Regions from separate parts of the Homo sapiens genome. Here region 1 is linked to region 2. Evidence: fine-mapped expression QTL. A gene starts in region 2. The other region holds a variant in brackets. All regions are shown on one strand. Distances are from middle to middle.

Region 1 (5,363 bases), 170 kb before region 2:
TCCTGAACTTGCACATTGCCTTTCCCTTTGATTTTAAATCCTTGGCTCAAATGACATGCCCGGACTATATCGTGTGATATGAGCTTGAAAAGTAATTTACGTACAAGTCTTGAAAGCAAATCAAGTTTTAAAACAAAGTAGCATCTACTCTGCCCCAGCCTTGACATCTTATTACATAGCAAATGCTGGCTTTTTAATTTCCCTAATCAAGACTGGTCCTATTTAGCCCACCTCCTCAAGGGGTCCCAGCACTAGCCCCACTCCGACGCCTGATGAAGTTCCAGAACAGGTGAGAAAAATGAGAGGGCCCTGCCCAGGGCTCTGGGAGTCGGCCCTCACTGCCTGCCCTTCAGACAGCAAGACAGAAAAGGCATTCATTTTCTTCCTCCACGTCATGATACCAACCGAAATTACCTTTAAATGAGGAAGAAGGTCATTATTTAATCAATAGGATTGCGTCAATTGAGGAAAATTTGTCTCCAGTGTAAACAAGCGGAACGTCTTTGCGCTCTATAAAAACAAGGTTAAATTACTTGCAGATCCGGGCAACGTGGAGAGATGTAGGAAGTGAACCTGAAGCCTGACACACTCAAGGTCTCGGAACCGAAAATAATAGGAATTGTTCTTATTTTTCCAGTGGAATCAAGCACAGAGATGGGCACGCCTCTTTACAGAACCAAAGATTCAGAACTGTGCCTTACCCTTTGCTTATGAGGCGGAGGAGGAGGAAGAGAAAGAACCACCGCAAAGAGAGATGGCAACAAAGGTAAAATGAAGGCCGGGCAGCCGATCCCACTCAGGCTGACCACAGTGAGGGAGCAGCATTAAAATGAGAAAGGATCAGGTCTCGAAGCCCAGCCCTTCCCGCTGAATCTCGTCCTTTGCTTCATCCATTCCATTAAATAAGTCATATTGAAAATAAATTATTATTAATACAACAGTAGCTAACATTATGGGGTCTCACTCCATGCCAAGCATGCCAAACCCAGGTCATGCACGGTGCTACTCGATGTTCACAGCAGCTCTAGAGGTGGGTGCCAGTCATGCCCACTTAGCAGATGCAGAGGAGGGCAGTCGCAGCTGGAGAACGGCGGGCAGTTCTGCCTGTTTCTGAGGCCCCACTGCTTGAACTGCCAGCCTCAGAGCCATCTGCTCACTGGGTGCTCAGCCCCGTGCTGCACGCTGTGGACTCACAGGGGGAAGTACAAGCTAGGCCTGCCCCTAGGGCATCCCCATATCCCTGGCAAGAAGGGGATTTGGGGCATTTACTCCTGTTTAGGGAGAGGCTCAGCTCGTCTGGGAATCCCTGGATGAGCAGACTCTGTGCCTGCTCCTCTCCCGTACCCCTTCCCCATCCATGTCAAGGGCTTTGGCCACAGCACATAATGGGTCCAGCGAGTCACAGTCTCTCCCGGAGGCGGCCCCAAAGACCCCTTACCCACACCTCCTCGATCGCTGCTAGGGTATGAGCTGGAGGCTGTCGGTGGTGAATGGGATCTCTGTCACTCCACAGGCATCTGATGAGGTCTAAATTCCCTGCTCCCTGACAGAACTTCTTGGTGGGGTTATGGCTTCCAGGTTCTCCTCACCTACTCAGGAGACTGGGCTAACACTGAGTGAGGTTCGCTGACACCCTCTGTTCATTAACAACAGGACCAAAACCAAATAAATTTTAGCTCTGGGCTTTTGGACAGCCAGATTCCAACACTTTGGTGGTGGATCCTGACTAATGTTCCTTCCCCATCCCTCCTCCTCCCATCCCCCAACCCACCCCGCCCAGCTCCAATTCTGAAGTGTCTGAATGCGGAGTTCATAAGCTACCTTCCTTCCATGACCATGTTGCCCACACGGCCTCTGCTGAGGATCCGGGCAACACAGTCACCACGGGAGGAGGCCCTCAGTTACCCTAGCAGCGATCTGAGGAGTGTGGGCCAAGGGCTTTGGGGCCTCCTCCGGGAAAACTGTGGCAGCCCAGCCAAGACAGCAAGAGTGTGGCCTGGCCAAAAAAAAAAAAGGAAGCTTTAAAAAAAATTTTTTTAAGTGAAATGAAACATATTTGACCTGGGAAGAAATAAAAGACCTTTCAAGTTGTCAAAGTGACAAATTAGACAAAGAGGCCGAGCAAATGTGAGCTCCTGGGGAGTCCGTCAGAAGGAGCCCAGATGGAATGGACGAGGCTGGGGGTGACCAGAGGGATGCAGACAGAGGATTTATCCAGGTCGGGGTGGGAGACCAGTCAGAAGGCTGCACAAAGCTACACACAGTCTACCCTTTGTACTAGTATTTATCTAACTTGTCAATTTTATAGCCACGTTACCTTCCGAGTGTTC[A/G]GGAAGGCAGATATTGGTGCTGTCAAGAGGCCTGGCTGTGGTTTGCACAGCATAATGACAGATGCAAAAAACAAAGGGGAGGGGAGAGGGGCCTTCAGAAACCACAAAAGAGCCTTTGTAATTATGCCTCTGCCTCCCTCGGGAGCGTGCCTTTCCCTCGCTGCAGAGGTGCTCGCTCCAGGGGTGCTCTCTCCCCCTATATGCAGCTGTGCCGGGCAGCTGCACCGGGCAGCTGCCTAGCACACGTCTACCAGTCACCCTGCATGGACTTGAAGGGAGCTGTTACATGACTACCTCTCTTCCCCAGGCTAAATAGCTGCAGTCCTTTAACCTCTCTTCATGGGCCTGATTTTCCATCCCTTTAATCATCCCTGTCACTTTCTGCTGCAGCCTGTACTCACCACAGCCCTCCCCGAGAGTGGAGACACAGCCAACAAGGATCATGGGCCCAAGGGCCTCCAAGAGCTGCTCCTTTCAGACCACCCCCACCATGGGCCCACCCTGCAGCCACAGGTCCTGGGAAGCCCATGGTCATGGAGCCCCCACAGCTGAGTTACTGTGGCTCATGACCCAATTGGAGCTCTTCCCTCCCTGCTCTTGGATATTCCCCATGACCAGAAAGTCATTAAAATCCCACAGTCTCCTCTGAGCTGATTCTCACCATTTTTCTCTTCCTCTTCATTCTCAGTGCCTCACTCTTACACACTAGACCCCTGGACTATCATTTGGACCATGGAGCCAGCCCCCCAGCCAGCTTCCCTGCCACCAACTTCCCCTCCAAGACACTTAAAGGCCAGCTTTGGAAATATTTTTTTAAATTGAATGTCATTTTTATCAAGTCCTTCCCCTACTCAAGAGCCTTTAGTAGTTCCCTATTTCTTCTTGTTATAGCAGACATAAATAACTCACCAGATTTTGAGAATACTCTCACCACTCCCCCAACCCCTCTTCTGCCTATGTCCAGATCTACACTCAAAAACAGCCTTCCCTAGTTAATCTCCTCCCCTCTCTGTCCACCCCTTTACCCATCCCCATGGTTTATTGGATACTGTTTTGGGTGTCTTGAGATATTAGGTTAGGGTTCTTTGACAGCAAGCAACAGAAACCAACTCTGACTAGTTTAAGGAACAGAAAGGGATAGATTGGAAACGAATGGCATAGTTTGGAGATTAAAAGCAAGCCTGAACTACAGTCCTGGGAAAGATAGAACTGGGCAGCTCTGAAGATCTTTCTGGAACATTGCCATCAGATGATCAGCTCCAACTGCCTTCTCTCCTTATTTCTCTCTGCTTAAGATTCAGAGTTGCAGGACTGAACATCAACAAGCTCCGTGATCAGGGAGCAGAGTCCTGTGATTGGTTGCCCTACCAAAACCACTCAGGGTGGGGGAAGGTTGCAACATTTAGCAAATAAAAATACAGGATGCCCAGCTAAGTTGAATTCCAGATAAACAATGTTTAATTGCCCATATAAACACATCCCAGGCAGTAGTTCCTGATTTGTCTTCTCATTCTTCCCTTCCCTCAGTCCCACTCTGTTGCTCCCAGGTGGGTCAGCACACCCTCAGACCTGTACCTCTACCCACTCTGACTGTACCTCACTGTTAATGAATCTGTTCAGTCCTTTCAAGGTGGCTGTGAATTTTATTTCTTCCTCTTTAATTTTAATAACCGAGCTTCCATTGACTGGAAACTACACATTAACTGACACAAATAAAAGGGTGCACATGCCCTTTGGCAACCTTTATTGTTTATTTTCTCTTTAGCCTCATTGGAGAAAAAAATCAACTTTCTCCGTCTTCTCTCTTTTGCCAAATATTACAAAACAGACCTAATAACACTTTGCATTTGCATAACTCTTTAGATCTTAATGTACATTTTCACACTCATTTCATTCAGTGTCTTCACTCCTCAGTGAGTGAAGTGGTTAGTGGGCACAGGTAACATAGTCCCCCATTTTACAGATGAGAAATTCAGACGTTGAAAGGTGGGTTACAAAAGCTAGTATGCATCCAAAGTTGTGGATCCAGGACTCGGAACAATGTGTCCTTGCCTCTTTTCTGTAAAGGGCCAGATAGTAAATATTTCAGGCTTTGTATGCCAGATGGTCTCTGTTGCAACTCCTCAACTCTGCCATTGCAACACAAAAGCAGCCATACGTAATACATAAATGAGTAGATGGATGTTCCAATAAACTGCATTTGTAGAAACAGGCCAGTGGGCCATATCTGGCCCACAGGCTATACTTTGCAAACTAACCCCTGCTTTACACCACACAACAAACACTTTCCAATCTTTTTAAGTCTATCATGGTTTGCCTCCAATTGGGATGCCATAATTTTGACCTCAATCAATTTTAGATGACTAATTTTTTCTCTCCTCTTTACTTCTTATGCATCCGGATTGCTGCGACAATGACCAACTTGGCTTCCCACACCCACTTGGTTCTTCCTACACTGTGGCAAAGTTTCCTCTCATACGTGTGAATGTGCTCAGCTAAGCCCATTCTTCCTCCGCTGGGTCCTTCTTTACCCGCATATGAGATCAGTACCGACAGACCTTGTGGGGAGGCAACTTTCTAGGATGGGTCATCTTCTGAGGCCCCCAGGATTAACCAGCATACCCAGAATTAACCATTAAACAGGATTAACCATCATCCTTCTCTCTTTCCTTTACTCTGGGCTCCACACGTTTCCTCTCTTGGGCCTTTTCCATGGCAAGTTTGTCCCAGGGAAACTCATGCCTGGAATGGTAGCTCTACGACCTGGTCTTTCTGTGGCGTTTTCCTGTTGCCCACGGAAGTTGGGGACTGGGTTCAGTTTCTTCTTGAGCCTACAGAGTGAAAAGACTGGCTCAAGGGCCCTCCCTAAGAAGGGCAGGAGCTCCTTGAAGGCAAACTAGTTTAGTTTATACCCGTCACTGTTTATATATCCTGAGCTATAATGAGGGCTGGAGGCTGTAGGTGGACAGCAGCCTCCTGGGTGAAGAGGCCAGCTGCTTAGATGACTGGACTTACAAATCCTCAGCCATGCTG
Region 2 (5,363 bases):
GGCAGACTGCAGATCAGGGGCCTGCAGCAGCATTTCATGTATTTCAATTCTTTGAAATGATTCCTCTCCCTGGGTGGCAGAAAGGAAAAAAAAAAAAAAAAGCAAACAAGCAAAATATAGTTAAGAACTCAAGAACTGCCAATTCAGAAACTCTAATCTGCTCAAAAAGTTCAATCCCTTTCTTTCAGAAGCCAAAAACCCATTTCCATCTCAGATTGTATATGTCTGTGTCTGAGAGCTGGTGAGGGAGACAGTGAGTATGCGAGGGAGGCCACTGAGATGCCTTTGTTCCTGTGTGTGAGCTACTGCTCTGAACTGCTCCGTGGACCTGTGTGTGTTGCACGCACATTTGTGCCTGTTTCTCAGGCCCCTGTGTGCCTTGAACTTTCAAACCATAACAGAAACACTGAAGCTTGGCAAAGATATCACAGGAATAATTATCTAATTTCAGAACATGTTATTATAATACCTACATGATGTGTAACAAACTTAACAATGTTCATGTTATATTCACCTACTCTGAGCTGTAGACTCACAACGCCAAGTTTTACCCTCAGAAGTTTCTCCAAAACACAAGGGCAGAGCAAGCCCCAAAGAAAGTTCTTCAGGGAATATTCCCCCACAACAGCTCCCTCACGGATTGAGACGTTTGGCTGGGTAGATGTCTATGGGGAAATTGCTGGAAGGAGGACAGAGCCTATCTTGGGATGGCAACTGTTCCTCCCAAAATCCTCATTCCTCCCCAGAAAAGAAGACATGGAACTGATAAGGAACTAGCAGCCATATTGGGGTGACACAGGCAGACAGGCTTTTCCTGATTCAGCTGTGGGCCGGGGGGGGCCTCCTAATCCACCCAGCTCCCCGTTTTCCCCAGGGGTCTGAATTGGACCAAGGCTGAGTGTGAGGGGAATGGTTTGCTGTTTGCTGCTGTTCCCTGTTGACTTTAGCCAGTAGCTCTGTTTACAAACCCAGGTTGGTTTTCCCAGCACAGTTAATTAGACCAAAGACATCTGGTGCAAGGCTGCGGAGAGGGCATCTGCTCAGAGCCTTCCCCCTACACCCTGCAGACTGCAGCCACGGCCCAGAGTGGGGCAGAACAGCTCTATCGGTACAGACCTGACTCCACCAGACCCAGTGTTCTCGGAGGAATCATGGCTTCCTTCACCCTGCCTTTCCATGCTTGCCAAGTCGGACTGGGCCCCAACTCCCCAAGCCATAGAGAACAAGGAGTCCGGGCTGGAAGGCCCACCTCAGTGGGATCATAGGCTGGAGATCAGGGACTCAGCTCTCTCCTCGGTCCTTCCATGTCCAAAGGAACAGGGCAGAAATTCCTGTCCCTTTCTCATCACAGACACTGCATTCTGTAGGAACGCCAGACCTCTTCAGGGAAAATCTCCCCTCCCTGGATACCCCCCCACCCACCCCCACCCCCAGAAAAAAGGCTGTGGACCCTTCTCCTCCCTGACCCCTCCCCAGCCAATCCCTGACACTGTGAGGAGGACAGAGATTAACCTGGCCCAGAGGGAGGCAGGAAGCTGCCCAGGAAGGTGAGAGGATCTAGGTGGGCAGTTTCAGAGTGGCGGGGAAGAGGAGAGCTGCGAGGGGGAGGGGCAGCGGCTTATCTCTCCCAGGAGGGGGGAGCTCACTCCAAACAGCTAGTGCACTGGCGTGTGAAAGCCCCTCAATTAGCACTAATGATGCAATCAGGGAGGGAGGAGGAGGGACCGAAGTTCTGGTGGCGTCAGCACCAACTTACACACAAGGTACACATTCCCTTCATCGGACACAATGGCCCCTTCAGACACGCCGAGGCACACACTCCACAGACAGCCGTCCGTGGGCACAAACGCACTCTTTGCCCAAGCTACTAGCATGCACATGGTTTCTTATACGCGGCTGACCCCGTCAGACCCCAGGCATCTTGAGGGGTAGGGAGCGACCCCCAGCTGCATTTGGGGCTTTAGAGGCAAGGAAAATCAGAAACACTTTGGTAAAAGGAGTTGAACAGGGCATCCTCGGCGAGCTCACGAGCATTCCTCTATGCCTAGAGCTCCTGTCCCACGCGCGCTCGCAGGTGCTGGCCCGGCTGTGCCCGCTTCCCCCTCACCATCGCCCCAATCCGGAATCCGGGGCTGAGCGAGGAGCCGCCACCCCCGGCCCCACCCGCGAGAGACGGGGTCCACGCGCCTTCCCTGCGCCCAAACCGCCCCGAGGCCCCCAGTCCCAGGAGGGAGCGCTGAGATCACTCGGATCTCCGCACCCCGGACTTAGCTGCTCGTCCCCTCCGGAGCCCGCTACCCGCCGGCCTCGCCCCTTTATCTTTCCCCCACTCCGCCCGGCCGGCTCCGTTATCCACCTCCCAATCCCGTTATCCGGCCGCCCCGGCCCCGTTATCCGCCCTCGCGTTGGGCGCGGAGCCCCCGCGCGCCTCCTGGCCGCCGCCGCCCCCTCCCCCGCTCCCAGACGGAGCTCGGGGGACCGCGGGCTGGGCGGGACCGCGGGCTGGGCAGGACCGGAGCCGCCTCCGCGCCGCTTCCCAGGCCCGGACGGCCGCGGGAGGAGGTCCCGCTGTCAGTCAGCGGGGAAGGCCGGGCCGGGCGGCCGGAGGGGGCGGCGCCGAGGACGGGCTCGGGCCGGGAGCTGGGAGGTGGAGGCGGAGGGGCGGGGGAGGGGGCGGGGGAGGGGGCGGGGGCGGGGGCGGGGGGCGGCTCTGGGCCTTATAAGCGGCGGGGGCAGGGCGGCAGGGAGGCAAGTGTCAGGCCGATGTGTCGCCCGCGAGGGGCCGGGGTCGGGGCCGCCGGGGCCATGCGCGCGGGCTGGGCAGGGGGCCGGCGGGGCGCAGAGCGGAGCCGCCTCGGAGCCTGAGCCGCCCGGGGCCGGGGCCGGGGAGCCGCGCGGGGCCGGCCGGCCGGGGGGAGGGGAGCGATGCGGCGCCGGCGGGCGGCAGTGGCCGCGGGTTTCTGCGCCTCCTTCCTGCTGGGCTCCGTCCTCAACGTGCTCTTCGCTCCGGGCTCGGAGCCTCCGAGGCCAGGCCAGTCCCCTGAGCCTTCGCCGGCCCCGGGTCCGGGCCGTCGCGGGGGCCGCGGGGAGCTGGCCCGGCAGATCCGGGCGCGCTACGAGGAGGTGCAGCGCTATTCCCGCGGGGGCCCCGGGCCCGGGGCGGGCCGGCCGGAGCGGCGGCGCCTGATGGACCTGGCTCCGGGCGGGCCCGGCCTGCCGCGCCCCCGGCCCCCTTGGGCCCGGCCCCTGTCCGACGGCGCCCCAGGCTGGCCCCCGGCTCCCGGCCCAGGCTCCCCCGGCCCGGGCCCGCGCCTGGGCTGCGCCGCGCTTCGCAACGTGTCCGGCGCGCAGTACATGGGCTCAGGCTACACCAAGGCCGTGTACCGGGTCCGCCTGCCCGGCGGTGCCGCGGTGGCGCTCAAGGCGGTGGACTTTAGCGGCCACGATCTGGGCAGCTGCGTGCGCGAGTTCGGGGTACGGAGGGGCTGCTATCGGCTGGCGGCCCACAAGCTGCTTAAGGAGATGGTGCTGCTGGAGCGGCTGCGGCACCCCAACGTGCTGCAGGTACGAGGGTGGGGACGCGGGGGTAACGGTGTTGGCTGGGAGTGCCCAAGACCTTGTCAACCTGGCTGGAAGAGAACCCCTTGATCTGGAGTGCCAGTGACTGCACCCAGGCTAAGCTAGACGCAGAAACCGGACCATGGCCCTTCCCACTGCACCACCCTGCTTCTCACTCCTGGGTGGGCGTCCCTTTACCGGAGAACTCCTGGGTTTCTCGGCTTCCACACATCTCTTAAAGACAGGCCAGGACAGAGGCTCCCAAAACTCAGGGGGTGGGGCAGTCCATTAGGATTTAGGACTCTACTCCGGGCTGGAGTTAGGAGGTTGAACACCAGGGATATTACCCCAAGCCAAAATGACCCTAAGCCAAGACACTTGAGTCAGAATTCCAACTGTGTGATAAAGTCCCCCTTCTTGATGGAACTTCTCCCAACTTCCAGTGATTTGTCTGGTTTTGAAAATGAGACGGGACAGCAGTGGGGCTGGGAAGAGCTGGAAAGAGACCATGTGTCAGGCTTGATTCCTATAGAGTCTCCCCACCCACCCACCTCCAGCGCCACCCAGAAGACACTGGAAGGGGGCTGGGGAGCAGGCTAGAAAAAGGGAACACAGTCCTTCCCAGAAGTGAACTAAGGGTTCCCCAGGCCTTAAAGTGGGTCCTTGAGCCCCTGGAGAAGCCTGAAGGTCTCAGCTCAGTGGACAGACTGGCGGCCTGAGGATCTAAATGTCACACTGTCTGAGTGTATATAGATAGCCAAGAGGCTGGAAGGTTGAGAAGGCCAAATGCTCAGGTTCCTACTCAACGGGACTCTGCCTCGCCTGTTCACTGGAGACACAGGCGAGAGCTGAAACCCCCACCTTGTCCCCTCCAAGCTAGACTTTGAGTGGGCCTCTCACAGTCCCAGCACCGCCCTAACACTCCACGTCCTCTCTCTCAGGTCTCCCCCCATCCTAAGATTAGACAGACTATTCCCTTTGCACATGTCTGAGCAAACAGAGGGGAATCCCTGACCGCTGTTGGCCCGGTGAACATGGGTGTGTGCAGCCTCCCCAACGGATGAAATCTTGCACACACCTTCCACCTACCAGCCCACTCAAACTAACCTTTCTGCACCCAGCAGAAATGACTGGAAACCCAGGAGTCCCTCTCTCCTTTCCTTAGGAGTGAGATGGCACCCCAGCCCTGGAGGGAGATGGGTGGGCGTCGTAGAGCAGGAGAGACTGGCCCAAAAGTTGTTTATACTCCTGTTGGCTCCCAGTCTCCCCCTCCCCCATCGTATTCCCCAACCCTGGTCAGACACTTGTGACCGGGCCCTGGGCCCCAAACTGGTCTCAGGAGCTCGGGCAGAACCAACACTTGCGTGTAGTGAAGCCTGGCTGCACAGCTCACACCGTGTCTGCAGCTTCAGGGAGTGAGCCCCTGGTTACGTGGCCATTCTAACTGGGAGGATCTTGTACTCTTTCCTTCCCAGGGACTTTTGGGAACTTTTTGGAAACTCTAGGGTGTCAGCCAGATCCTGAGGGAGTGGAGAGGTCTTGAGTGACTTAGCAGGACATAAAGTCTTAGTTACTTGACTCAAGACCCCTCTCCCTTCAGACGGGTTTGATGTTTGATGTGCTTTCCTATCTTTTAAGAAACTTGTCCCTCACTCTTCCCGCCAGCTCAAACTTCCTGACAAGCATTCAGCTAACGCCCCACATATATATCACGTGACGGTCCTCCTCTGAAATGTCAGGCCCCCAGCCCAATTCTGAAGGCACCAAAGAAAAAATTACAACAGAATAGTTTTCACCCTTCCCTC

Evidence for each region.
Region 1: its variant is fine-mapped to the expression of PKDCC in whole blood (TOPMed, PIP above 0.99).

The regions. Positions count from the first base shown.
Region 1 is chr2:41,877,013-41,882,375 of GRCh38, forward strand. LINC01913 (long intergenic non-protein coding RNA 1913) reads left to right here and starts at 543. Exons shown (of 3, transcript NR_033996.1): 1 at 543-766. The variant A/G (reference allele first, on the strand shown) is at 2,331.
Region 2 is chr2:42,045,275-42,050,637 of GRCh38, forward strand. PKDCC (protein kinase domain containing, cytoplasmic) reads left to right here and starts at 2,747. Exons shown (of 7, transcript NM_138370.3): 1 at 2,747-3,564. The coding sequence starts at 2,926. RefSeq lists enhancers at 1,124-1,627, 1,628-2,132, 1,756-1,875, 3,376-3,635, 4,349-4,850 and silencers at 2,046-2,335, 2,446-2,695, 2,846-3,025, 3,036-3,135, 3,266-3,335.